4 linked regions of the Homo sapiens genome follow. The protein of the gene in region 3 purifies or fractionates together with the protein of the main gene of each other region. This does not show direct contact. Each region holds a gene or a part of one and is shown on either strand. Other genes may lie near its edges. The genes, in order: MTMR1, DIP2A, SELE and DIP2B.

Evidence for each region.
Region 1: the proteins of SELE (region 3) and MTMR1 purify together in Homo sapiens (affinity purification with mass spectrometry; 2 studies listed by BioGRID and IntAct, with this or other methods). This does not show direct contact.
Region 2: the proteins of SELE (region 3) and DIP2A purify together in Homo sapiens (affinity purification with mass spectrometry; 2 studies listed by BioGRID and IntAct, with this or other methods). This does not show direct contact.
Region 4: the proteins of SELE (region 3) and DIP2B purify together in Homo sapiens (affinity purification with mass spectrometry; 2 studies listed by BioGRID and IntAct, with this or other methods). This does not show direct contact.

The regions. Positions count from the first base shown.
Region 1 is NC_000023.11:150,696,385-150,703,420, reverse strand, and holds part of MTMR1 (phosphatidylinositol-3-phosphate phosphatase MTMR1), read right to left. Parts: intron 4,227-7,036; coding exon 4,121-4,226; intron 1-4,120. UniProt on the Homo sapiens protein: Lipid phosphatase that specifically dephosphorylates the D-3 position of phosphatidylinositol 3-phosphate, generating phosphatidylinositol. Could also dephosphorylate phosphatidylinositol 3,5-bisphosphate to produce phosphatidylinositol 5-phosphate.
Region 2 is NC_000021.9:46,552,885-46,559,920, reverse strand, and holds part of DIP2A (disco-interacting protein 2 homolog A), read right to left. Parts: intron 5,753-7,036; coding exon 5,629-5,752; intron 5,347-5,628; coding exon 5,225-5,346; intron 5,100-5,224; coding exon 4,988-5,099; intron 3,940-4,987; coding exon 3,830-3,939; intron 3,519-3,829; coding exon of another isoform or gene 3,492-3,518; exon of another isoform or gene 3,083-3,491; intron 2,983-3,082; coding exon 2,852-2,982; intron 2,337-2,851; coding exon 2,168-2,336; intron 1,699-2,167; coding exon 1,528-1,698; intron 88-1,527; coding exon of another isoform or gene 58-87; intron 1-57. UniProt on the Homo sapiens protein: Catalyzes the de novo synthesis of acetyl-CoA in vitro. Promotes acetylation of CTTN, possibly by providing the acetyl donor, ensuring correct dendritic spine morphology and synaptic transmission.
Region 3 is NC_000001.11:169,731,066-169,738,748, reverse strand, and holds the start of SELE (E-selectin precursor), read left to right. Parts: upstream 1-4,669; 5' UTR 4,670-4,778; intron 4,779-5,088; 5' UTR 5,089-5,136; coding exon 5,137-5,173; intron 5,174-5,750; coding exon 5,751-6,134; intron 6,135-6,806; coding exon 6,807-6,914; intron 6,915-7,683. UniProt on the Homo sapiens protein: Cell-surface glycoprotein having a role in immunoadhesion. Mediates in the adhesion of blood neutrophils in cytokine-activated endothelium through interaction with SELPLG/PSGL1. May have a role in capillary morphogenesis.
Region 4 is NC_000012.12:50,745,981-50,749,189, reverse strand, and holds the end of DIP2B (disco-interacting protein 2 homolog B), read right to left. Parts: 3' UTR 533-3,209; downstream 1-532. UniProt on the Homo sapiens protein: Negatively regulates axonal outgrowth and is essential for normal synaptic transmission. Not required for regulation of axon polarity. Promotes acetylation of alpha-tubulin.

The sequences.
Region 1 (7,036 bases), on a different chromosome or scaffold from region 3:
AAACTATAGTGTCCTAATTTTCATAAAGCTGGCCCAGATCAAATTCTTTTGAACACAATTGAATAATGTTCTAGCAAGAAAGGCATTTAGAGGTGAATAATCTAATCCAAGCCCCTTTATCCTTCCAGAAAAGGAAACTGAGCCTCAGAGACTATACAAGGTCACAAGCTAACCAATATTGTTTGTACTACTCCATCATGTTCTCTTTTCATAACCTAGTCCTACTTTCCAAACAATGGAAGCTGTGATCAATGATGTCACTTCTACTAATAGTTCCTAAAAATGTTTCCATTTGTAACTGTATTATTTCATCTAATCTACAGAAGATTACATTCAAATTTTGTTCTTAAAATTTCTGGCAAATTCAAGAGAAATTTTTTACCATTTGTTAGCCTAGTAAAAATGAAAGCAATTGAGTTGGTAGTGGAGGGGGGACAAGCAAAACAAATATTTTATTACATTTTGTGTAATAGTCTTAATTAACAGGCCAATCTTCAGGATGACTCGGTATTAAATCAGGCATTTATTAATTTAGCTGCCACACAATTCAGTATAATAGCTATCTACTCTTTCAGCTGGGACAATGCTTGCCAAACTTGCCATTTCACATACCACCTCAACAAGTTTGGCTTGCTGTATCTGCCAACTGCCCATACTAATTTTGTATTTATCTTTATATTGATTTAAAATCCATTCCTTTTTAATACTTTGCCTGCTCTAAGCCATAACATCTACTAAATCACAAGCCTGATGTGCTGATTTTTCTAATACACAAGAAAATAATTACATAGCTACTAAAATACGTCCATGGACATACCATCTAAACTCATGTCACGTGATACCAGCGATATTCTTACTGTACTTTAGATGAGCTGACCCTGGGCTGACTGACAATTTATGATATGAGTAAATAATAAAATAATTATTCTCCAATATCTGAGTTGCTAATTATTCAGATTCTTAGTAATATACCAGAAATGCAGGGTCCCATCACCAATTTCAACAGACAGAAACTCAGGAAGCCTAGGTTTTCAGATTTTATCATGCATAAGAAATATATGAGACACTTGTTTCCCTCCCTCAGACACTCTGATTCAGTAAATCTGGGATGGAGCCCGGGAAGCTGCATTTTTACAGGTGCTCCAGAGAATGCTGTCTTGGGAAGACCCAAGGGTCACATTTTGAAAAACAGTGGATGAGGCTGGGTATGGTGGCTCACACCTCTAATCCCAGCATTTTGGGAGGCCGAGATGGGAGGATCGCTCGAGCCCAGGAGTTCAAGACCAGCCTGGGAAACGTAGTAAGACCCCATCTCTATAAAAAAAAAAAAAAGAAAGAAAGAAGAAGAAGAAAAAGAAGAAAAAAAAAGATCGAAAAGCAGTGGATGGGAATGGGGGTGGGACAAAATCTTAAAATCACTCTAGCTTTTCAATAGGATGACTTGAGTTCAAATCCCAAGTCTAACTGTATGACCCTAAGCAAGTCATTTCATCTCTCTAGGCCTCGGTTTCCTCATCCATTAAATGATGATTGTAGTAATAGCTACCTCAATGGACTTTTTTAAAGAAGCAAGATCTCTCTATGTTGTCTAGGCTAGAGTGCATTGGCTTTTCACAAGTGTGACCACAGCACACTGCAGCCTTGAACTCCTGGACTCAAGTGATCCTCCCATCTTAGCCTTCCAAGTAGCTGAGACTACAGACCACCACACCCAGATTCACTAGGTTGTTTTAAGGCTTAAATGGATGACATGTCAAAAAGCATTACAAAACCCCAGAGCCTGTATGTGTTAGAGGGTTGATGATGATGATGATGATGATGACATAGAACCATTCTCGACAGCCTGTTACAACTCAGAAGACAATCAGCATTTCAAATAAGATGCCAAGCATTCTGCTCCACATAAACATCTGCTCCCATTTAATTACTGATGTTGAGTTTAATCTATAATAAATTAGCCCCCAAATTAAGTGTGTATTTCAAATAAGACATTTACACAACAGATAATTTCAAATATCAGCTGATGACTGCAACTTAAATCCTCAAGGAACTTTATCTGGCTCTTCAGGGTCAACCCCATGCAATAGCTCCCATGCCAGAGGGGTCCCAAAGGCCCATTTTGGTTACCCTGATTTTAAGAACTACTTTATAGGGAACATGTACAATTATCCTTGTGGTTTAGAAATATTTTATGTATTTATTATGTAAAAAAAAAAACTCTCCTTGAAGAAAGTGTAACAACCCCTGAGTTATAAATTTAACACCAACTTTTCAGATTTGGCTGCAGGGCAAATATAACAAAGACAATTATAAAACATGCCCCCTTACAATAATTCATCAAAGACTTTAGCTATGATCTGATGTAGGAACTTAAAATTTAATTTCCAAAAGAAAGAAAGCCTTATTTTTTCTGAATACCATCTGTTCAACCATTCCAACATGAGCTAATTCAGCTACACAAAATTTGTAAATAGACTGAGATTGAAAAAACTTAGTTGCTTCATGTTAAAGTACAGATTCAGTCTGATCTATTCATGCAATGTTAGAAAGCTATGCACACAGTCGACATTCAATCTTTTATAGGACACACACAACACTAACAACTATTCAACCTTAATGAAAACATTACAGTTAACTCATAATTGTCCATAAAGAAAATCACCCCGAAGTGTGAGAGCTATTCTCTGCTAAAATGGGTTCTTAAGTCTCTCTACTCAGCGGGCAGTTTCTCAGCTAAGGTGCAGGCAATAGGGCAACTGGAACTGATGCGATCCGCAGCTGCTCAGTGACCAGCCATTCACGCATCAGTGATGCAGCAAATGCTTCTCCCACCTGGAGACAGTGTGTTTGCCCGACCAGGTTTTAAGGTCCAGGAGCCCCAGCTGCTCTTTTATGGGCAAACATGAACACCACATAGCAGGAAAAATGATTAAGAAATACACTGTCACTCTTCTAGCTGGGCAGATTATCCAATTTCTGCTAATCCACAGCTATGCCTTCCTTTGGTAGGCATAATCAACAGCATCTGCCAGTTTGGATGAGGCAAGAGACAGCACCATAGCCAAATCTCAATTAATTGGCCTCCTGAGCCTGTTTCTGCACTTGTTATTACCCTATGAGCTCTAAAGAGGAACTGAAGATAAAGCTCCTAAACAAGGAGTACCTATTAAGAATTAATTAGGATCTTTACTGTAATTCTTGATATTTGTAAGATTTGATGTCTGGCAAGGACCATGATATTGAGAGACTATTAACTAATGGTAGTCTGGGATACCAAATGCATTTTACACACACTTGTGAAAAATCAATCATCTCTTACTAGCAGGAAAAATGACCACTAATAAACAGAAACCTCAACTTAGGCAAACATCAGTACTGAAATATAAATGTGATTTCATTTAATATACCTATTAATAGTTTATTGACATTAAAACAAAGTTAGTCTTTAGCCTTAACAAAGATGGAACAAGCGATTTTTTTGATTTGTTAATTGATTCAATATTTATTGAGCAACTGTTATGCTCCAGGATTGTGCCTGGGAAGCCAGTGGTAAAACTGCCCTAGTCTCTGCTGACAAGGAGCTTATCACTTAAATTTAGAATAAGCAGGGAATCTAACTTTTAAAATGAACAAAAAGAGATTTTCACTTCAGTAAGGACTGAAAAATGAGGCTGCCCATACAATACTCTTTTGAGATTCTGGAAGGGTTTTTATACATTCTAGTATCACATGTTAATGCTGAATACTCACAGATAATACATAAATTAAAAAATTGTGAAGTTAGGGAAGTATTGTACATCAAGATATTTCCTGAAACTCACAATACTAACAAAGAAGCTATATGCATTTATTATTATAAAATGGAACTTGATTTTTAAAAGAATCATTGTCATCTAAAGACAGCTTCTCCTTTCAATTACAAAACTATGACTACATGTACTGGATACTGGTAAAATTTCTCTTCTACATTTCAGATCTAACAACAGAGAACCTTTCATCCTTATTCTCGAGCAAATGGCCATGTTGCATCAAAAGGCCAACAGCTCACTTGAATTAAAACTGCAAAGCTTCTTGGCTACTTAGCATACTGAAAATGAATTAAACACTCAATGTTGCTTACCTTGTAATCTCTGGACACATTTTCTGATGTCACTGAACCTGAAATCTGACTAGAAATTGTAGCAGCTATAAGCTGTTTACACCATTCAACATGTGATCCTGTGGGACTAAAAAAAATAGCATGGATTACAAAACGTTATATCATAGGATCTCAGTGAAAAAATTAGCACTGAATAGGAATATGATAACACTTCTTTTTTTAGATGAACTAACTAGACTCTTTGGTTACCTTCACATTTTATGTAAGAACTGAAATAGCGACTGACAACTAGGAAATAAGATTAGATTCCAGGTTAATTTTAAATGAATCACCCAATTTTCTCAAACAAAGTTGAAGATTCTAGGTGTTAGTTAAGCTTACTATTCTCTACCATTTAATGGAATTTTACTCTATTAAAATTATATGGAAGAAATACTTCTTTTTTTTTTTGTGAGATGGGGTCTCACTCTGTCACCCAGGCTGGAGTGCAGTGGTGCAATCTCAGCTCACTGCAACCTCCCAGGTTCAAGTGATCCTCCCACCTCAGCCTCCTATGTAGCTGGGACTACAGGCACATGCCACCAGGCCCGGCTTTTGTGTGTGTGTGTGTGTGTGTGTGTGTGTGTGTGTGTGTGTGTGTGCGCGCGCGTGTAGACAGGGTTTTGCCATGTTTCCCAGGCTAGTCTCGAATTCCTGGGCTCGAGTGACCCACCCGCCTTAGCCTCCCAAAGTGCTAGGATTACAGGCATGAGCCACCACACCCAGCCGGGAGAAATATGTGAAATATTTATCTTACAGCATAGGCTTTTCAAACATTCAATCAATTTCATGTTGGTAGTTTTAAATCTAGAAAATAGTGTACTTTTGAGTGAAGCAAAGTGACTCAGAAAAGTAAAGCTGAACATGAGATTTATAAATTACAGCCTAGAAAAATGATGTTCTCTGTGTAGTACTAACAATACCTTACACTTCTATAAGTGCTTTGACAACTTACAAATGGTTTTTATTTTTTATTTATTTTTTTTTTTGAGACAGAGTCTTGCTCTGTCACCCAGGCTGGAGTGCAGTGGCGCGATCTCGGCTCACTGCAAACTTTGCCCTTCTGGGTTCAAGCAATTCTCCTGCCTCAGCCTCCCTAGTAGCTAGGATTATTTAGGCGCATGCCACCATGCCTGGCTAATTTTTGTATTTTTAGTAGAGACGGGTTTTCACCATGTTGGCCAGGCTGGTCTTGAACTCCTGACCTCAGGTGATCCACCCGCCTTGGCCTCCCAAAGTGCTGGGATTACAAGCACAAATGGTTTTTATTATATCAGAGCCTCACAACCATGGTGTGATGAGAAGGCAGAACAGGGACTAGCCGACTTGTCTTTGAGGAGAGAAAATCGAGGCACAGAGGTGACATGCCCTGTGAGAAAGTGGCTGTCCTCAACAGGACATGGAACAACCAATAGCGACTGACTCACTGCACTGAAGCCAGCAGCACAGATGCGAGCCAACCGCTTTACATGAAAACACAGCAATGCAAAGAAAATGTCATCTTTCACTCCCACAGAGCTCTGAGGCATCAAAGCATTTTCACACACGTAGCCTTGCCCAGCCTCACAGTGACCCATTTTACAGATGAAAAAATTAAGGTCCAGTTTTGCCCAAGGTCACACGACTGGCAAGTGGTCAGGCTGTACTCACCTGACCTGAAAGACCACATAAGCCAACTAGCGCAGTAAGAGATTTAACAATTGCCCCCAGAGGCCGGGTTCCTCTCACAATTTGGCAAAACACTAAGAAATCAAGCTAGAGGGCTAAAAACACCGACAAAAGTTTACCTTGCAGGTAGCTTTCACTGTAAAGAATGTTTCAGGCCTTTAAAAAAAAAATCATATCACTAATTAAACCCACACTCACATATCTGAAGGACAGAAACACCTGGAATCCCCAGGCAATATGGAAAATGACCCAAATAGTAAAAGAAAGAAAACTGAAGTTCTGTGCTAGTGATCCAAATTGCAGTCTCTGATCAAAACAGACCAGAGGTTATCTGTATGGTTGAAAATACTGAATGAGCAGAAATTCCTATCACATGCCAGGAATCTATATACCACAATTTCGACCTGAGGGGGAGAAGGAGAGAAAAGGGAGAGATTTGTTTCCTTTTTAAAGGTTAAGTCACTTTCATTCCCACGTATATCATACTTTTCTTGTCATAATGCCTTTTTCTGTCAGCACCCACCAGTTGCAAATACAGGAAGAAACTGCAGAAACCCAACTGCTGAGCATGAGTGTGACCTGCTATTACCACCTGCCTGCCCGGCATGCCTTCCCCCTTCTTCTGATAAAGACCTTCCTCTTTACTTTGGGAACTGCCCTTCCCCACAACACAGGCTTCTGTGGGGGAAAGCGGAGAAGAAGGTTGACCCCTTCCTCCACCTGCTCCCACTTGTAGGTGAGTTACCTAGGACCAGCCAATCCCAGACTTTTCCCCTTGGATCCTGAAATACATGGATCTGTATCCAGAGCTGCTGGAGGCCACTCCCCACCCCACCCCACCCCTACCATCTTAAGGAACTCACAGCGATTAAAAAGTGAGGGAAAATAAAAGAGAGAGGGAGAGAGAGATGGGGAGTCCCGACAACACTGTTTGCAATCCTGACCTCAACTGTGCCTGTGGCCATCTCTCCTCCTGTCTGGAGCAGTTCTGTGAGCCAGGGCATCTCATTTGCCTTAAGCTAGATTGAACTGTGGTTTCTGTCACCTGCAACCAGAAGCATCCTGGCCAATGTAGTTACACACAGTGAAGCACAGTGGGTTAGCAGACAGGAGGCCTGGACATGAGTCCTGCTTCTGTCACCAGCTAACTCCATGATCTTTGGCAAGACACATCCTCTTACAGGACCACAGCTTCCTCATTATTAATTACAGTATTCAGAAGAGAAGTGA
Region 2 (7,036 bases), on a different chromosome or scaffold from region 3:
GAACTCATGGGAGGGGGAAGCACAGAGGCACCAACAAGGTCAAGGTCAAGGTCATACCTGCTCAGCCAGCTTTCCCAGCCTGTTGGGCTGACAGAGGCCAAGGAGGCAGCAGAGTGAGACAGGGAGGAGACAGCCACAGGAAACACACACAGAAGCAGCAGCCACATGAGAAACACAGGGAAAGAGAGAGCAAAACCCACCTCTGTATCTTAAAGAGCAAACGTGAACATCCCATTAACATCATTTCTGCAATCATGTGTGGCATCCATACCCTTCCGACGTCTAGCAAGGAGGCCCCAGGCTTGCAGACGCAGAGCCGCTAACACAAAGGCCGGCACCCACGCTCAGCCACAGCCTACACAGGAAGCGAGCTCACAAAAGGCTCCCGCCCGATCTCCTCTGCTGCGTGACAAGGGTCTGAGGCTTGAGTGGTCAGGGGTCTTTTTGTGGTGAAGAGGGTGTGAGCAGAGCCCCCGCCCTGCCCTGCGTGCACTGCCACTGTGATGGGGAGGCACAAGGCCAAGCAAACACTTTGGAAACAGAGACAGACCTGCACTCAGCCCTGCTCTGGCACGGACAGGTGCCATTTCCTTCCAGCTATTCTTGTACTATGTGGGTGAATAAGGCGTTCAATATGTAGGGTTATCTAAAAAGCCATTTGGTTTTAAGATGTTTTTAGAAAGAAATGAAATTGAGATACTAGTACAAAATCTGGGCAACAGCTGTAGCTATCTGAGGAAGCAATAAACAGAACTGCCGTGAGCTCTTCAATCTCTGAAACTTGGTGCTACCTATGTTTTTTTTTTTTTTTTTTTTTTTTTTTTGAGACAGGGTCTCGCTCTGTCACCCAGGCTGGAGTGCAGTGGTGAGATCTTGGCTCGCTGCAACCTCCTCTTGCCAGGTTCAAGCGATTCTTGTGCCTCAACCTCCCAAGTAGCCGGGACAACAGGCGCGCACCACCAGCCAGCTAATTTTTGTATTTTTAGTAGAGACGGGGTCTCATCATATTGTCCAGGCTGGTCTCGAATTCCTGACCTCAGGTAATCCGCCTGCCTCAGCCTCCCAAAGTGCTGGGATTATAGGCATGAGCCACCACTCCTGGCCTGAAACTTGGTGCTTCCTTTTAATAAGACATTTCATGGTTTCAGAAATGAATTTGAGTCAACACAAATTACCACATTTATTAATGTTTCAATTTAATATTGCTAGATATCTTAAAACAGTAAGTTCAATCTTGCTTTAAGAACTTAGCTGTGTTTTATATCTAACTTAGAGAGTCTTACAGTTATTAGTCACTGTTCAAAAACAATGTGTTTTTTTTCCAAATAAGCCTTTCTCCAACTAGAATAGAACATCTTTAAAAATAAAACCCTTGAAGCTAAAATGTTACATGGAAATGAGATATCAAAGGCCCAGAGAAGGAGAAATAGATCAGGCGGCTACAAAACGGCACATTAACAACTGGGAAACTGGGTCTCCATGCTGCCAACAGCCAGCTTTCGAGAACCGCAGCCCCAGGCACCTCACCTGGAGGCAGATGGCCACGTTGACCCTGCACCCGAACGTGGTGCTTACGGCGCGGGCCGGCAGGCCCAGGTCCTTGAAGAGCTTGGAGAAGGACTGGGTCAGCGCAATCCTGGGCCGCTCCTCGGCGACCACCATGCACGTGCGCACACATGACAGGTTCACCCCCTTCATCTGCGGGAGGGGTGAGCGGTCAGGCCACGGCCACAGCTCAGTGAGTTGCCAGGGCCCTGGGCACTGTTTTGGGAAATCTCCGGGTGGGCACACAGAGGTGGAGCTGGACACCAACCTCCTCTCCGCAGGCTGTGTCTGTTCCACAGAATCCTACGTGTGGATGCGCTAAACGATTCCCATCTGACCTGCATCCCACACCTGCCCTCCCACGCGGCCAGACTTCCACCCCGCTATCTCGCAGGGACCCTGCCCTACCCCCCACCCTCCTCTCCTGCGGGGTGTGGAGCTGCAGAGACAGGTGGGCCGTGGGAGGACAGATGTGTACATAGGGCCCCTAGTGGGAAAGGGTTTTCTCTACTTCCTCCAACTGCAGGGAGGGGCCTTGGGAGTCTTGTTTTGTTTTGTTGTTTTTAAACTTCCCAGGGCTGTGGTCTGCAGCACACTCAGAAGCCCGGGTCTGGGCACTCACCCTGAGGACACCCGTCTGTGCGCCTAGGCCCTTGGTGCACATCTCCATCACAGAGTAGGAGCAGAAGGTGACGCGGGCCTTGTACTGGCTGACGGCCGACAGCCACAGGGACACGTTGCTCTCCAGCTCCAGCGGGGGCACCAGCACTGATTGGTGTCCCGAGTAGACACTGCGAGAGGGAAGGCTCGTGAGGCTCCGCCCGCCCACCCAGCACCCTGGGCACTCCACTCTTCCCTTCCTCAAGAACACTTCTTTTCCAGCCACAACAGGGGCATGATTTCTGTTCTGACGCCAAGTGGGGGGGTTTGGTGGAAAACATGCCACAGGGTGAAGGTTGGGGGATGGCAGGCACGGGGTTCTGAGCTCTGCTCCGAACACTTGGAGAGGATCCGGGGACACCACTCCAGAGGCATTCACTTCTAGAGACGGATCGCCACTTTCTAGTGTTTGAAGGAATCAAGCAGATTCTTCCCAAGTACTGATAACGGACAGTGTATTTAATGAAAAATGTATTTTCACTCAATTTCAGACTCAGACTCCAACCCACTTCATCCCCAAACAAACCCACTCACACACATCTCATCGGCTTCCTGAGCACCCAGAAAAGGTGCCTTAGAAGGCCAAGGTTCCTAAGAGCCACACGAGCTGCTCCCACCTGGCAGGCAGCAGGGGCCCTGCACTCACCTGCACAGACACCACAGGGCAAAACCAAGGCCACAGTAGGGGTCGAGGCAGATGGCGATCTGCCGCGAGGGGTACAGCTCACACTGCAGCTTTATGGAGCGGCATAAGGCGCTTGTGGCCGCGTGCGACATCTTAAGAGTAAAATAAAGTTCAAAAAAAAAAAGTGAAATGAAATTCAGGAGGGGAGAGGGTGGATGGCAGTGTCCGCTGTTCACATGGCTAGACCATAGCTCCGAACTACCAAACATCATATTTATTTCCTTAAAAGACGGTTGGCTCAAATCCCCATATAACCTAAATAATACCCAAGAAATGGTACACTAAAAATCTTTGAAACAAAATTTCAGGGTAATGAATTTTTAAAATTTTTTTCTTTTTTTTTTTTTTGAGGCAGAGTCTTGCTCTGTCGCCCAGGCTGGAGTGCAATGGCACAATCTCGGCTCACTGCAACCTCTGCCTCCCGGGTTCAAGCAATTCTCCTGCCTCAGCCTCCTGAGTATCTGGGATTAGAGGCACCTGCCACCATGCCCAGCTAATTTTTTGTATTTTTAGTAGAGACGGGGTTTCACCACGTTGGCCAGGATGGTCTCCATCTCTTGATCTTGTGATCCACCCGCCTCGGCCTCCCGAAGTGCTGGGATTACAGGCGTGAGCCACCACGCCCCGCCTGAAAAATTTTAATTGAGCTATTGACTCCCAGCAAGGTAAGAGATTCTTCAAAGCCACCAGTTCCTGTAAGCTAGACAGTCATAAATCAGAAAGTTTAGACATAACCATAATGCATCAGAAAACGCATTACTCTCAGGCTAATCACATCTTAGCATTTATTGGTATTTAACACAAATCTTAAGAAGCAAAATTGTTGCTTTGTGCTTTGCATAAGAAGGACCTGTCAGTTTAAATCTGCATCTGACATCCTTTCTGTCCACTCCTCCTGATTTCTAGGGGCTGAAGCAAACAAGATTTCAGAGGACCTACCTTCACTCCCGCTAATATCCCAGTGGTTGACACGCTGAAGTCCAAGTATGCGAGGACATCGGGGGAGGGGGGCCTGAAAACGCTTGCTATCTTCTTTTTTGGGATGTCATCTGTTAAACAGGAGACACCAGCAACATTAGTGTTCCCACATGTATTCTGAACGCTCTGGGCTTTCACAGGCAAGAGGCGACACATGATTTGTCCTTGGGAGTCCTGCAGAGAGTGAGCTCAGACGGGAGTGGGGCCGTGACGATGCAGGCTGTGCGTGCTCAGGAAAGCGTATTTCATTCTTCATGGAAACGCTACCCGGTCCCACCAAGACCACACTGAGCCTGTGGGGATGGGGGACGAGGCAGGGCGAAGAGGGGAGGCATCACGTCACTGACCAGTAGGAAAGATTAGAGGACTAGGGATTTGCCAAAAGTCACAGAGCCTATGGCAAAGCCCAGATGAGCCGAGTCCCGACCACAGCAAGAATAGCTGTGGACGGGCTCTGGGTTCTGCGTGCTTCATCAAGTTCTCGTGGCCCCATGAGCCAGACACCACTGCCTCCCTGGGTGCAACTGGACACAGGCTCAGCAGGGCAGGCACCGCTCCCCTTGAGGCAAGCCCGTGAGGCTTTGGGGCCCTGGCCAGCTGTTTGGCTCTGAGCCTGCCCTCCCCTACACCAGCTGCCCTGGCCCAGCCCCATCCAGCCCAGGCTGAGACAGGTCCACGGCAGAGGGGAGCCAGGGGGGTTTCTGACCCTCACCCTGTTGGCCCTCAGCATTTCATGGGGCATGACAGCATTCACCAATGATGGGGACAGGGATGCTGGAGTGGCGGCATGCGGTGGGAGCTGTGTCCTCAAAGCGTTTGCAGAAAGCCTCAGAGAGCTGCCAGCCCCCATGCCAGTAGGAGGCGGGTGAGAGGGGCAAGGCTGTGCTCCACACCACTTGGGACTGGGTGCGGCTGCTGTGGGCTGAGTGGAGCGTGGGTTTACACATGGGACAGGGACCCCTACTCCCCACCAGGGCCCGGGGCACCCCCTGCTGTCAGCCAGGCTCCTGCCAGGACTGCTCTTGCCTCACGTGTGTTTTTGGACGGCAGCCAGGCCACACCACACCTACAACAAAGAAAGGAAAAGGGACTGGTCCTGGGCAGTGCGAGGACACGCACCTGTGTCTAGGATGGTGGGCCAGGTCCTGATGTCCACGGCAGCAGCAGCCTCCTTGGACCTGAGCAGCCGTGTGACAGCCTGCGTGGTGAGGACGCATGCAGACTTGCTGACCTGCATGGCGAGGGGCCAAGGGTGGGTGGGCGGGGCCTCTCAAGCTGCCCAGAAAAGGGGGCAGCGGAGGGCAGCCTTGCAGCCTCCCACTCACAGACTCTGACCCGCGGGCCAGGTAGGCGCACCTCCACGATCATCTTGACGGTGGGCAGTGTGGTGCCGAGGTTCTGAGGGTGCGGGGGCCGCACGGTGACAGGCACGCAGCCACAGTACAAGCAGCCATAGAACGCGGCAATGAGGTCCACCCCTGTGGAGACAAGGACTGGCTGTGAGGAGGCCGGCCGCAAGAGGCTCCCACCAGCCTCTGTTCACTGTTCCTGCGAGAGAGGAGGGGAGGTGGTGCTGGGGGGGCATGGGTGACTCCTGGGTTTCCACAGGGGTAGCTGAGCTGAGGAGGCAGACACATGCAGAGAGGAGGGGCTGAGCTTAGTTTTGGAAGATGCTTCGGGGAGGGAGTGTCTAGGGGGCTGCTTAGGATAGGAGGCTGCTTACAAAGAGCTGCAGGTGGACAGCCCCACAGTGAGCCCACCTGGTGGGTAGACCAGAGCCACATGGTCCCCAACACTCAGTCTTCCCTTCTCCATCAGAGCCGCGGCCACTCTCTCAGCCCTTTTGTGCAGCTGGACACAGGTTGCAGTGCTTGTGACGGTGCCCTAGGAAAGCGATCTTTGAGCTCATCTGTATGCTGGTGCGTGCAGGTGGGCTGTTCGCAGATCTGCGTGCACACCACCTGCACGCCACTGCACACGACACCTTGTGATTAGCGTCCATGATAATGACAATGTGTCAGTCCTAGACGTACGGCTGGTGTCTTTTTTTTGGTAGAGATGGGGTTTCACCATGTTGGCCAGGCTGGTCTCGAACTCCTGACCTCAAGTGATCTGCCCGCCTCAGCCTCTCAAAGTGCTGGGATTACAGGCATAAGCCACCGCACATGGTCCACGACTGGTGTCTTTTCTCACCATCTGTACTCTCTCACTAGCAGTGAAGGGACAGGCATGCAAGTATCTCCTGTGTGGTCCCAGCTAAGAGGGAGAGATGCGGGCACTCCATTCACCCAGGGCAGAGCCAGAAACACGTGGGTAAAGAAGACCTTTCTGGCCTTTTCAATAAAATATTCCATACGACACCATTATAAATACATAATAAGCGATAAGCAAACATCCCTGAATTGTACTACTTTCCATGCCCACAGGTCACCTGCACTGAGCCTGGGCGTGTGTCATCTGCAACCGGCTTTCTCAGAGGCATCTGTGTGTCTCCTCTAGGACTGACTACACCAGCTCCTTCATTCACCCTGTCTCTCTGCTGAGGGGCACTGGGGCTATGTGACCAGTTCAAGGCAAACAGAAATACCTGGTAACCCTACCTCTCTGCTCAGGACACTCATCCTCCCTGATCCCCTGCCAGGCCTCGCAGCTTTTTTAGTCCTTCTTAAGAAGATAAAAAGTGCAATTCAGTCTAATAAATATAAAACTCCAGAGCAGACCAGTGTAACATCAAAACTCCCTGTTTCTCGATTGGTGGCTTCTACTGACAGAAGGCAGTGGAAGAGAGAGACCAGTGGACGCACTTATGTGCTGTGTCCAGGCACAAGGGCTGGGCAGATCCTGAGATTCCAAATCCCGGAAGCTTTGCCAGTCCATATGAGTCAGGGCCCCATCAGGACAGAACCTGAGATCTGGACTGGGACTCAAAGCCCGCAAGGTCTGGGATCCCACTGCATCCTTAGGGAAAACCCAGCGACCCCCAGCCTTATCTGCATCCCCTACCTGGGACCACCTGGCCCCCACCACACTGGCCTCCTTTCCTGCCTTGAGCCACTGGGCATCATTCTTCATAGCCCCTGCTACCCAGTTCCATTCAAAGCCCCCTCCCCAGCACTCCAGGTTACATCACTCCACTGTATTGATACTGAGGTTCACACCATAAGCTGA
Region 3 (7,683 bases):
TTGATGCCTGATTAAAGGGTGTGGAGGAGAGGACAAGAGACTTCCAGGAAGAGACAATAAAGCCAGGAAGGGTGACACCTCAGAGATTAAATAGCACTGGTGGCAGACACCGGGGTGTGCCTGAGTTTGCACCGTCTTCTTTCCTCTTTTCATTCCCATCTATGTAGCGGATGCTTCCCCCATGCGAGAAACTGCCAAGAGGGTCCATGTGAGGCGAGGCTTGAAAACCGGCAATCCGGTAACAGCTAGCTACATCTTCAGAGCTTGGGAGATTCAGTGGAGCCTTGAAGCACCTCTAATCAGCCTGTTTCTTGGGGGTATATTTTGGATTATTTGAAGAGGGAGATGATATTCATAATATTCAACATGCCCAACTATTCAAATCTTACCCAATTTCCTCTTCAACTCCCCCTGATTTGCCCCCACCCTCAAAAAACAAGCAATTGCCTCTTATGAAATCCTGATAGGAAAAAGCAGGTGAAGAAGCTATAGTCTGGTTGTAATCCCACTCCCACGCAGCGCTGGCCCAGGGCCTCTCCACGAGAGGAAAGCTGGGTCTGTCTATGGCCCCTTCAGCAGCCCAGGTAGCCAGAGGGGAGCCCATCAGCTCCCAGTATCCATGTACCTGATTTGCAGTGACAACCTCGGGGGCAGGGACACAGAAAATACTGTGGGAGAATGCAGGTAATTGTAAGGATGAATGGATTTTGAATAACATACCTCTGGTTAAAACAAGTACATATATTATATACATATAAATTATATACATACATGTACATATTGTAAACCAAAAAGTAACTGAAGCATATCTCAACAGATTAGAGGTTTATTTTGTCCCAGGTAAAAGAAACACAAATCACTGTAGGATCTGTGACCTGCGCTTTTTCCAAAGAGAGTTTTGGGAACTTCCATCTTTAGAGGGGAAAGAGCAAGCAGGAGGGGAAGAAAATAAACGAAAGATGGGTTGGCAATGAGACAAGTGTTTACATTGTGGCAAGGCTCTGTAACACTCAGTGAGTCTACACTTTACATGTAAAAAGAAGGGACTAGAGGGAAATTATGCATGGATCTCATGCTCAGTACATCTACATTTTATATAAGATAAAGTAAGCATGTGAAATTACAGGTATTTGGGAACAAAAGGAAGGCAGTTTTTGCATGACTCATTTCCCAAGCTTAACTTTCCCTTTGGCATAGTGAATTTGAGGTCTCAAGATTCTATTCTTCTTTCACAGTATTTTACATATATTTATATATAATATATATAAAAATATCTATATTTATATATAAAATATAAAAATATCTATATTTATATATAAAATATAAAAATATCTATATATATAAAATATATAAATATATATAAATAATATATATATTCCACATATATAATATATTGTAATTATATATATATACTCTACATATATTATATATTATATATAGTCTACATTTAAGTTACTGTTACTCACCTATCTCTTCCACTCCTCATTTCTCTTATCCTTCGAATATTGGGATCTCTCCCTGAAGCTTTCTCAATTTAGAAATAATCAGTTTAGAATTTAGAATAATCAGTTTGCCCTTTGACCTTAGAGAAAATTTGCTTTTGAATCAGGAACTTCTGGGAACTGTGGCTTAGGGATCAACTTTACCTAGGCATGGCTCCACCTGCCTTGCTTGTTTTTTCCTTTGTCCACTTTCTCCCTGCCTATGCACCGGGGATCCAGGGTCTGTTCTCACTGCATCCTCTCCCTACTGCTCACTGTCCCTGGGGTCCCTTCCAGCCCCCATGTCTCAGAACCCAGGACACAGTTATCTCAGTGGAGAGCTGTGATGGTCAAGGATGTCTCAGGAAGAAGAGGGCAAGAAGAGTACAGGAAACTTGGGTAGAACAAGGAATCTCGGGGCATAACAACAAAAGAAATCATGGTTTGGAGTAGCAGGTAAGGGAGTGGGCTCTGGATATCAACTGCCTGGTTTCAACCCTTAGCTCTGTGCTTTTGAATGAGATAAAATCCCCAGATTCTCAATTTCCTCATCTGTAAAATGGGGATAATAGGAGTACCTATTTCATAGGCTGTTGTACGGATTGAATAATCAATAGGTGAACATACAAAATGCTCAGAATATGGCCTGGCACATAGTAAGCACTCAATAAATGTTAGAGATTATAATTGGGGGTCCAGGACATATATATGTAAGTAAAATAGAAACTTCATCACCACTGGGGCTATTTTTAGATATCTTTGAACTAATTTTAAAAAGGGGAAGAGATAAACTATAAACTTAGTTATGAAAAATTCGCAATAATAAAGTTAGTTATCTAGGGATGTTAACGACTAATTTCTATTAGCAATATAATTATTAGGTACTTTATTGATATCGAAGATAAATTGTTTTTTAAGATTTGGCTACTCTATACATTTGACCATGCTTTTTAAAAATAGCAGATTATGTATTCATACTTTATTAAAAATAAAATACATACAGATAATGTATTAACCCAACTTGACATTCTGCCCTAAAATCTAAATAAACACTATATGAGTGATTACTCTTCTGAATTTATTGAAGCAACAACCACATTGAGCTAAGTAAAGTGGGATAAAGAATTGGAATAATGTCAGTATCTGGATCATGTAAGAGAGTGGTAAGGTGGAGGGAATAAATTCTATGCTTTTTGATAGGGGTTGAATTAAATTCGTTAATTAAGTTATTTTTTTCTAATCAGTTGTCTTTTTTGGAATTTTTCTTCTCTTTTCTTGTTTTTTTTTTGGGTCTTGACATCTTTATGAACACAGAAAGACCAGTGCTAACAAGTAAAGAGAAAAACGAGGCTTTTACCACTACTCGTTCAGGTCTGCTGACAGTACATTTTTAGATAGACCTCCTATTTTGAAAGGCTGTAGATATAGAATATTAGCTTGACTTGAGCTCTGAAAACCTACAGAATATGGAAATTAAAATGATCCCCATTTACTGTTACCATCATTTAGATAGGGTAAGATGCAGAGATGGGGAATGTATACAATCACCCAGAAGAAATGTCAAAATGAAGAGCAGGAATATAGGATACCACATACATCTCCTTCTGTTGCATTTGGAAACAAATTTCTTTTCTTTTCTTTTTCTTTTTTTCTTTTTTTTTGAGATGGAGTCTTGCTCTGTCGCCCAGGCTGGAGTGCAATGGTGTGATTTCAGCTCACTGCAACCTCTGCCTCCTGGGTTCAAGCGATTCTCTTGCATCAGGCTCCCCAGTAGCTGGGATTACAGGCATGCGCCACTACACCCCGGCTAATTTTTGTATTTTTAGTAGAGACAGGGTTTCACCATATTGGCCACGCTGGTCTGGAACTCCTGACCTCAGGTGATCCACCCACCTCAGCCTCCCAAAGTGCTGGGATTACAGGCATGAGCCATCATGCCTGGCCTAGAGACAAGTTTCTTTAAACTGTATTCTTGTTACTATAAAGGTGAAAAAAAGGGAAATTGAAAAAAACTTTAAAATCCTGAAAATAATAATGAAGGATATAAAAATTATCCCAAATCCTGCCATCCAGAGTTAGTCACTGTTAACATTGTGGAAGAATTTTTATTCTTTGCACATTAACATTTCAAAAATTTTAAACAAAATTTTGACCAATTAAATATATATATATAGTTTTCCGTTTTATTTTTTTTCTTTTCTTTTCTTTTTTTTTTTTTTTTTTTAAGACAGAGTTTCACTCGTTTCCCAGGCTGGAGTGCACTGGCGTGATCTTGGCTCACTGCAACCTCCACTTCCCGGGTTCAAGCGATTCTCCTGCCTCAGCCTCCCGAGTAGCTGGGATTACAGGCATGCGCCACCATGCCCAGCTAATTTTGTATTTTTAGTAGAGATGGCGTTTCTCCATGTTGGTCAGGCTGGTCTTGAACTCCCGGCCTCAGGTGATCCGCCTGCCTCGGCCTCCCAAAGTGGTGGGATTACAGGCGTGAGCCACTGTGCCTGGCCTCCTTTTTATTTTTTTCACTGAACAAACCATGAAACTTTCCCAGATGTAAATATCTATTTCCCATTTTTCTTTTTTTAAAATAAGGCATTATTTTAACCATTTGAGTGTTAGATATTATTTTTAGATAATATTTTAATTTAGGCATAACTGCCGTGCAAAATCTGAAGATTAATATCTACCTTGTGAGTCATTCCTCTGTGAGACAGTGCATGTTAAATATGTTGAATTGGCAGGTGAAAAAGGAAGAAAAAATGAGTAGTGATTGGTTATCCACAGCTATGAATGAGAAATTGAAGGTAGTAGACTATGGATGACAAACCTATTCTTGGTTTCCTTCTGTTTCTGAAATTCTAATTACTACCACAACTACATGAGAGACACTACTAACAAGCAAAGTTTTACAACTTTTTAAAGACATAGACTTTATGTTATTATAATTAAAAATCATGCATTTTTGTCATATTAATAAAATTGCATATACGATATAAAGGCATGGACAAAGGTGAAGTAGCTTCAAGAGACAGAGTTTCTGACATCATTGTAATTTTAAGCATCGTGGATATTCCCGGGAAAGTTTTTGGATGCCATTGGGGATTTCCTCTTTACTGGATGTGGACAATATCCTCCTATTATTCACAGGAAGCAATCCCTCCTATAAAAGGGCCTCAGCCGAAGTAGTGTTCAGCTGTTCTTGGCTGACTTCACATCAAAACTCCTATACTGACCTGAGACAGAGGCAGCAGTGATACCCACCTGAGAGATCCTGTGTTTGAACAACTGCTTCCCAAAACGGTAAGTGCAGAACGCTTTATAAGGGCAGCCTCGGGCCATGAAACACAGATATGCAAAAGGCCTTCTAATAAAAACCACATCTGTACAAGCTCTTATTGTATTGTAGCTAAAACCTGTCTTTTCTCTTTGACCTAAATAATGAAAGTCTTAAAATTTGTTTATTTATTTGATTAAACTCTGAAATAAAGATTATTGCACTAGTGTCCTTTGCCCAAAATCTTAGGATGCTGCCTTAAACATCATGGTAGAATAATGTAACTAGCTACCCACGATTTCCTTCTTTAATTCATTTTGTGTTTTATCTCCCCAGGAAAGTATTTCAAGCCTAAACCTTTGGGTGAAAAGAACTCTTGAAGTCATGATTGCTTCACAGTTTCTCTCAGCTCTCACTTTGGGTAAGTCAGTGCCATTAGACCAAGATTTCTCATTCTCGCACTATAGATATTTCAGACTGAAATATCCTTGCTTGTCTGGGGCTGTCCTGCACAGGATATCTGGCAGCATCCTTGACCTCTACCTGCAATGTGTTCTTCCCTGGGCTTGGGGTCATTTACTTTACCTCTTGGTGTCTCCCTTTCCTTAAGTGTAAAGTGTGGATCATAATGACCTATTTCCCAGATGCATTGTGAGGATTCAATAGCATGGTTCATGGAAAGTACCTCATACAGTGCTTCTTGGTGCATACTAAGTGCTCAATAAAGCTTAGTTATTCTGATTATTATTCTACTACAAAATGGGTATACTATAATGTTGTGAGTGAGTGTGGATAAGGTACCTAGTGGGTGGCAGTCACAAAAGAGATAAACAATAAGTCGCTGTTTCTTCATACGTACTTCTTACTTTTGAAAAGATGAGAAAAGTCTGGGCCATGTCACAAACATTGCCAAAAATAAGACAATAAAAAGCACAGTTGTCAGAGTTAAACCACAACAGTACCAAACTCTACCATTTCTTTTCTTTTTCTCCCACTAGTGCTTCTCATTAAAGAGAGTGGAGCCTGGTCTTACAACACCTCCACGGAAGCTATGACTTATGATGAGGCCAGTGCTTATTGTCAGCAAAGGTACACACACCTGGTTGCAATTCAAAACAAAGAAGAGATTGAGTACCTAAACTCCATATTGAGCTATTCACCAAGTTATTACTGGATTGGAATCAGAAAAGTCAACAATGTGTGGGTCTGGGTAGGAACCCAGAAACCTCTGACAGAAGAAGCCAAGAACTGGGCTCCAGGTGAACCCAACAATAGGCAAAAAGATGAGGACTGCGTGGAGATCTACATCAAGAGAGAAAAAGATGTGGGCATGTGGAATGATGAGAGGTGCAGCAAGAAGAAGCTTGCCCTATGCTACACAGGTAGGGAGTTTGCGGCAGCAGTGGGAGGTAGTTTCAGTGTGTGGGCATCTTGGCAAATTTACAGCATGCAAAAACTGCTCTCTATTGTGGTCATTTTATGTTCCAAAAGATTCTGTTTAACTGCTAAAGTTTCTCTCTTTTGCTGTTTTGTGTGAATGTGGGCAAGAATATGTGGATATGTATATATATACACACACACACATATATACACACACACATATATGTGTGTGTGTATATATATATAGCCTACAGCATTTATATACATTTTATATATATACATACACACATATACACACATATATGTGTGTATGTATATATATAAAATATATATAAATACTGTAGGCAAATATGTAGTTCTTTACATATAAAAATGCACACACACAATACATATTTTAATTACTTGTTTATTTGTGGTAGGGGAACTGTCTTCAGAGTTTGTGAAGAAGTAAATTTTCTACGGTAGGTGCCAGCCACAGCTATACATTAGCATCAAGGTTTAGGATAGGTGGGCCTGAAACTCAGATTTGGAACTTTGTAAAACACTTCAGTTAAAGTCTATGGCACTCTGTAGGACTGCTGATGTCTCTGTTGCACACTGTTGATTCTAAAATCAAAGGCACTCAGTATAAGCACAGTAATAGTCCTCCTCATCATGCTTTGTATTTTCCGTAGCTGCCTGTACCAATACATCCTGCAGTGGCCACGGTGAATGTGTAGAGACCATCAATAATTACACTTGCAAGTGTGACCCTGGCTTCAGTGGACTCAAGTGTGAGCAAAGTAAGTCTGGTTCTTGCCTCTTTCTTCACTTGAGATGGTAGCACCATCTCACGTCCTAGCTGGCATTAGAGTCAGGTCTGCATGCCTTCCCTTCCCTGGTGCAGATGGTGTCATATGGTGATCGTGAGCTGAGACTATGAAGTCAGACCCTGCTGGGTTTGAGTCCTAGATTCACCAGTTATTTATTTTGGCACCTTGACAAGATAGTTTAACTCTCTATGTCAGTTTTCTCATTGTAAAATGAGGATAATAATAGTGTGAACTTCATAGGCTCATGGTTACATGGTGCCTGGCACACAGGACACATTCAATAAACTGTAATTCTGTGTCCCTGCGAGGAACATGTACTCACCTCATCTAGGTGGTAACAAGACGTTGCAGTAGAAATGAGTGAGTTACAGAGTCCAGGGTATCTTGGTTCATGCTCTGGCCTCTGGCTCTGTAATGACTAGCCGTGTAGCATGGAGCAAGTCACTTGAATGAAATGAGGTCTCAGTTCCTAAATTTGTACATTAAGAGAGTTAGATGAGCTTCTCTCCAAGATTCCTTAGCACAGCGTTGTGCAGTAGAGCTTTTGTGATAATGGAAATGTTCCATAGCTGTGTTTTCCAGTGTGTACCTATGAGCCACATGTGGTTATTGAGTACTTGAAATGTGGCTGGTGACACTGAGGAACTGAATTTTAAATGTTATTTGATTTCAACGAATTCAAGTTTAAATTTGAGTAGCCACACAGATAGTGGCTACTATAGTAGACAGTGCAGCATTA
Region 4 (3,209 bases), on a different chromosome or scaffold from region 3:
ATCCCAGCACTTTGGGAGGCTGAGAAGGGCAGATCACTTGAGGTCAGGAGTTTGAGACCAGCCTGGCCAACATGATGAAACCCTGTCTCTACTAAAAATATAAAAATTAGCTAGGCATGTTGGCGCATGCCTGTAATCTCAGCTACTGGGGATTACTTTGGGAGAATCGCTTGAACCCAGGAGGCGGAGGCTGCAGTGAGCTGAGATTGTGCCACTGCACTCCAGCCTGGGTGACAGAGTGAGACTCTGTCTCAAAAAATTAAAAAAGAAAATACAACTACCAAATGCTACATGAGTGGGAGGAAGACTAAACTATAATTATTACCTTGAAGAGTCCTGACAACAGGCTCCTTAGTTTTCAAAGTGACACCCTGATTCCCTGACCTAGTATCCTTTAATAGCACTGACTCTGGATCTCTGTGTTCACTTTCCTTAGACTACCCCAGCTATCACTGGGTCTTACCATCTAAAGTTAAATTTAAAATCTATCAATTCCCTAGCCTCCACCCAATGTGTGAAGGATTAAACAGAATCAGGCATCAATATTTATTAACACAAGACAAAGGAAACACATTCAATGAGTTAATAGAACACTGTCCAGCCAGATGTTAAATTTAAAAACGTATATCTAGTCTAACTTCAAATAAATAAAAAAACTTTATACATAATTACACAGTACTGTAGTTTGAATTTGACACGGGTAAATATCTTGACAGAAAGTAAACAAAACAGCATTTAGGACTAAAAAATTATTCTTATATCTTTAGTCTCTTCCTCTGGACAAGTAACATGGCCCAACTACATACACCTAAACCAGAAATGTCGTATGAATGATAAAGAAAAGGCCTATTGTGTATTTGGCGCATTGCAGCTTCTTGCTCCAAATACTCTTGCTTTTACATCAAAGCAGACAACAAAAACAACACTAAGGCATAGATCTTGTTGGAGTTTGAGGATGAGGTGATAACTCCTCATTGCTTTAGACTAAAAGATTCCTGGATATTCAAGGAAAGTAATTTATTTGGCCAAGATATAGAGCACCATGCCTGGGGCAGAGACCTTAATAGAAAACCTAAGGCCTCGGGCCCTTGTTGAGTCAACAAAAGCATTAAGCAAGGATTGCCCAGGGACTAAAGTAAGGAGACAGACTCATGTGACCAAGACAGGCAATGGTCCCTAAACAGCCTGAGGCAACACAACTTCATGAGGAAAGGACTTGGTACTGGGGAGACCTGGCCCTTTATGAGGCAGGAAGTAAAGACTGTGGATTCACTGACACTGATTAGCATGCTGGTCCTTCCCAGGGTCTCACTGAATTCCTAGGATCTAGGAATTTTCCTGAGGCAGCCCCTTCCTGATCTACTTCAGTTACTTCTGCTGAGAACCAGAAAGAGGTTCAGAAACCTTCAGACCAATAGATTTCTCTTAACTGAGACAGAGACTTGTTTAGTTTTTTTCCACAGACATTAAAAACCCAGACAGAATATGTTCCAGAGGATTGGAAAGGCTGTGTTTCTATTAGTAATGGCCTTTCAGGCCTGCCTTAAGAATCAGTTCTACCACAAAAGTGCTACTTAATGTGGATAGAGTAGGAGCACTGTGTCATCAAGAGAACATTTTCTTACTCGAGTCTGTGGCAGAGTAGGCTTTAAATCTGCAGGTGATCCCACAAACACCATCTAAGCAAATGACTGGGCTCTCCTCTCCCTCCACAGGATGCTTTACCAGAGTTACTGATGAAGTTCCTCAAGGACAGTTCTTAGCCTTCCTTCCTCCATGAGCAGATTCTGGCTTTGGGGGACATGCAAAAGATCAATAAAGCAGAAAGCAAAAAATAAATTAGAGGCCTGAGGAACTACAAAACTAGATAATCAGCCTCTAAGTAAATGGGAGTTGGCCACACTTTGAGATTAACAGAGTAATGTATTTGAAGGAATGAGTATAGATCTGCACTGTCTAATATGGTAGCCACTAGTCACATTTGGCTACAAAGACTTGAAATATGGTGATGGTTTGAATTGAGATGTGTTTAATACACACTGAATTTCAAAGGCCTAATATGAAAAAAAGTAAAATAACTCATTAATAATTTTTATATTGATCCTATGTTGAAATGATAGTGTTTTTGAGCTATTGGGTTAAATAAAATATATTTAAATCAATACCATGGGTTTCTTTTTACTTTTAAAAAAATGTGGTTACTAGAAACATTTAAATTACAGATGTGGCTCTCATTATAGTATTTACAGTGGACAGTGCATCTCTAGATGCCTATACCCTAATCTGTGTTAGTAAGAATTATCAAAGCAACCCACAGAATAGCATCTAACCATAACTTTTAGAACTTGGGGATTATAGAGCTAGACTTATTTATATCAGCTTCAGGATCCCCTGCTTTGTTTAGTGGATCATTAAAAATAGTTTTAAGAAAATTAAGTATCAGGCTGTGTTCTCTGCAAACCAAACCATTGCTAGACACTGGGATTTCCTGTGTGCCCCAATGTAAGTGCTTTTTTTCTATCCATCCTAGGACTTCCCTCATTACGTGTAAATTAATTCCATGAAAATGCTGAAAAAGAGATCTGGAACTGGCAAATGTCCTGAGCTCTGCCCTCTGTGGAGGAGTGGGGAGGAAAAGAGGATTACATGAAGGGAGTCACAAAGTGGCTTTTAGTCACATCACAAGACCGTGTAATGGCAGCCCTAGAGCACTGCCACCGCAAAGGAGCTGGTCTTTGCATTATAAACCTTATTTTCAGGGTAATTACAAGTCTTAAAAATTGTTTAAAAACATACTTAGTTTACATGATGTTACAGTGGGGTAAATAATATGTATTATTAAAATAGTCTAAATAAATATTTACACAATAGACCAGAGTGGGTCAAAGAGAACCATTCTGCTTTGACAAGTTAACTCTTCTCACTTTTGAGTACTTTTTCATTTTTAAAAATATTTCTGTTAAGAAAAAAATAATACGATTTAACTATATTCAAATACATGAAGTATCAGACCAAAGAAAGGAAACCGAGCCAGAGGCCAAACTCAGTCTCATCTCATTCTACTTGGCCTGGGCACCAAAGTTATTTCAAAAGAGTTTCCTGCATATGTCAGACTTCCCCGGTTTCAGCATAAGCCTGGCTGCTTTGGCAACCCAGATTGGTCAGTTTTGTGTAGTTATATGGCCTTACAGTTCCATGTGATGGTGGAT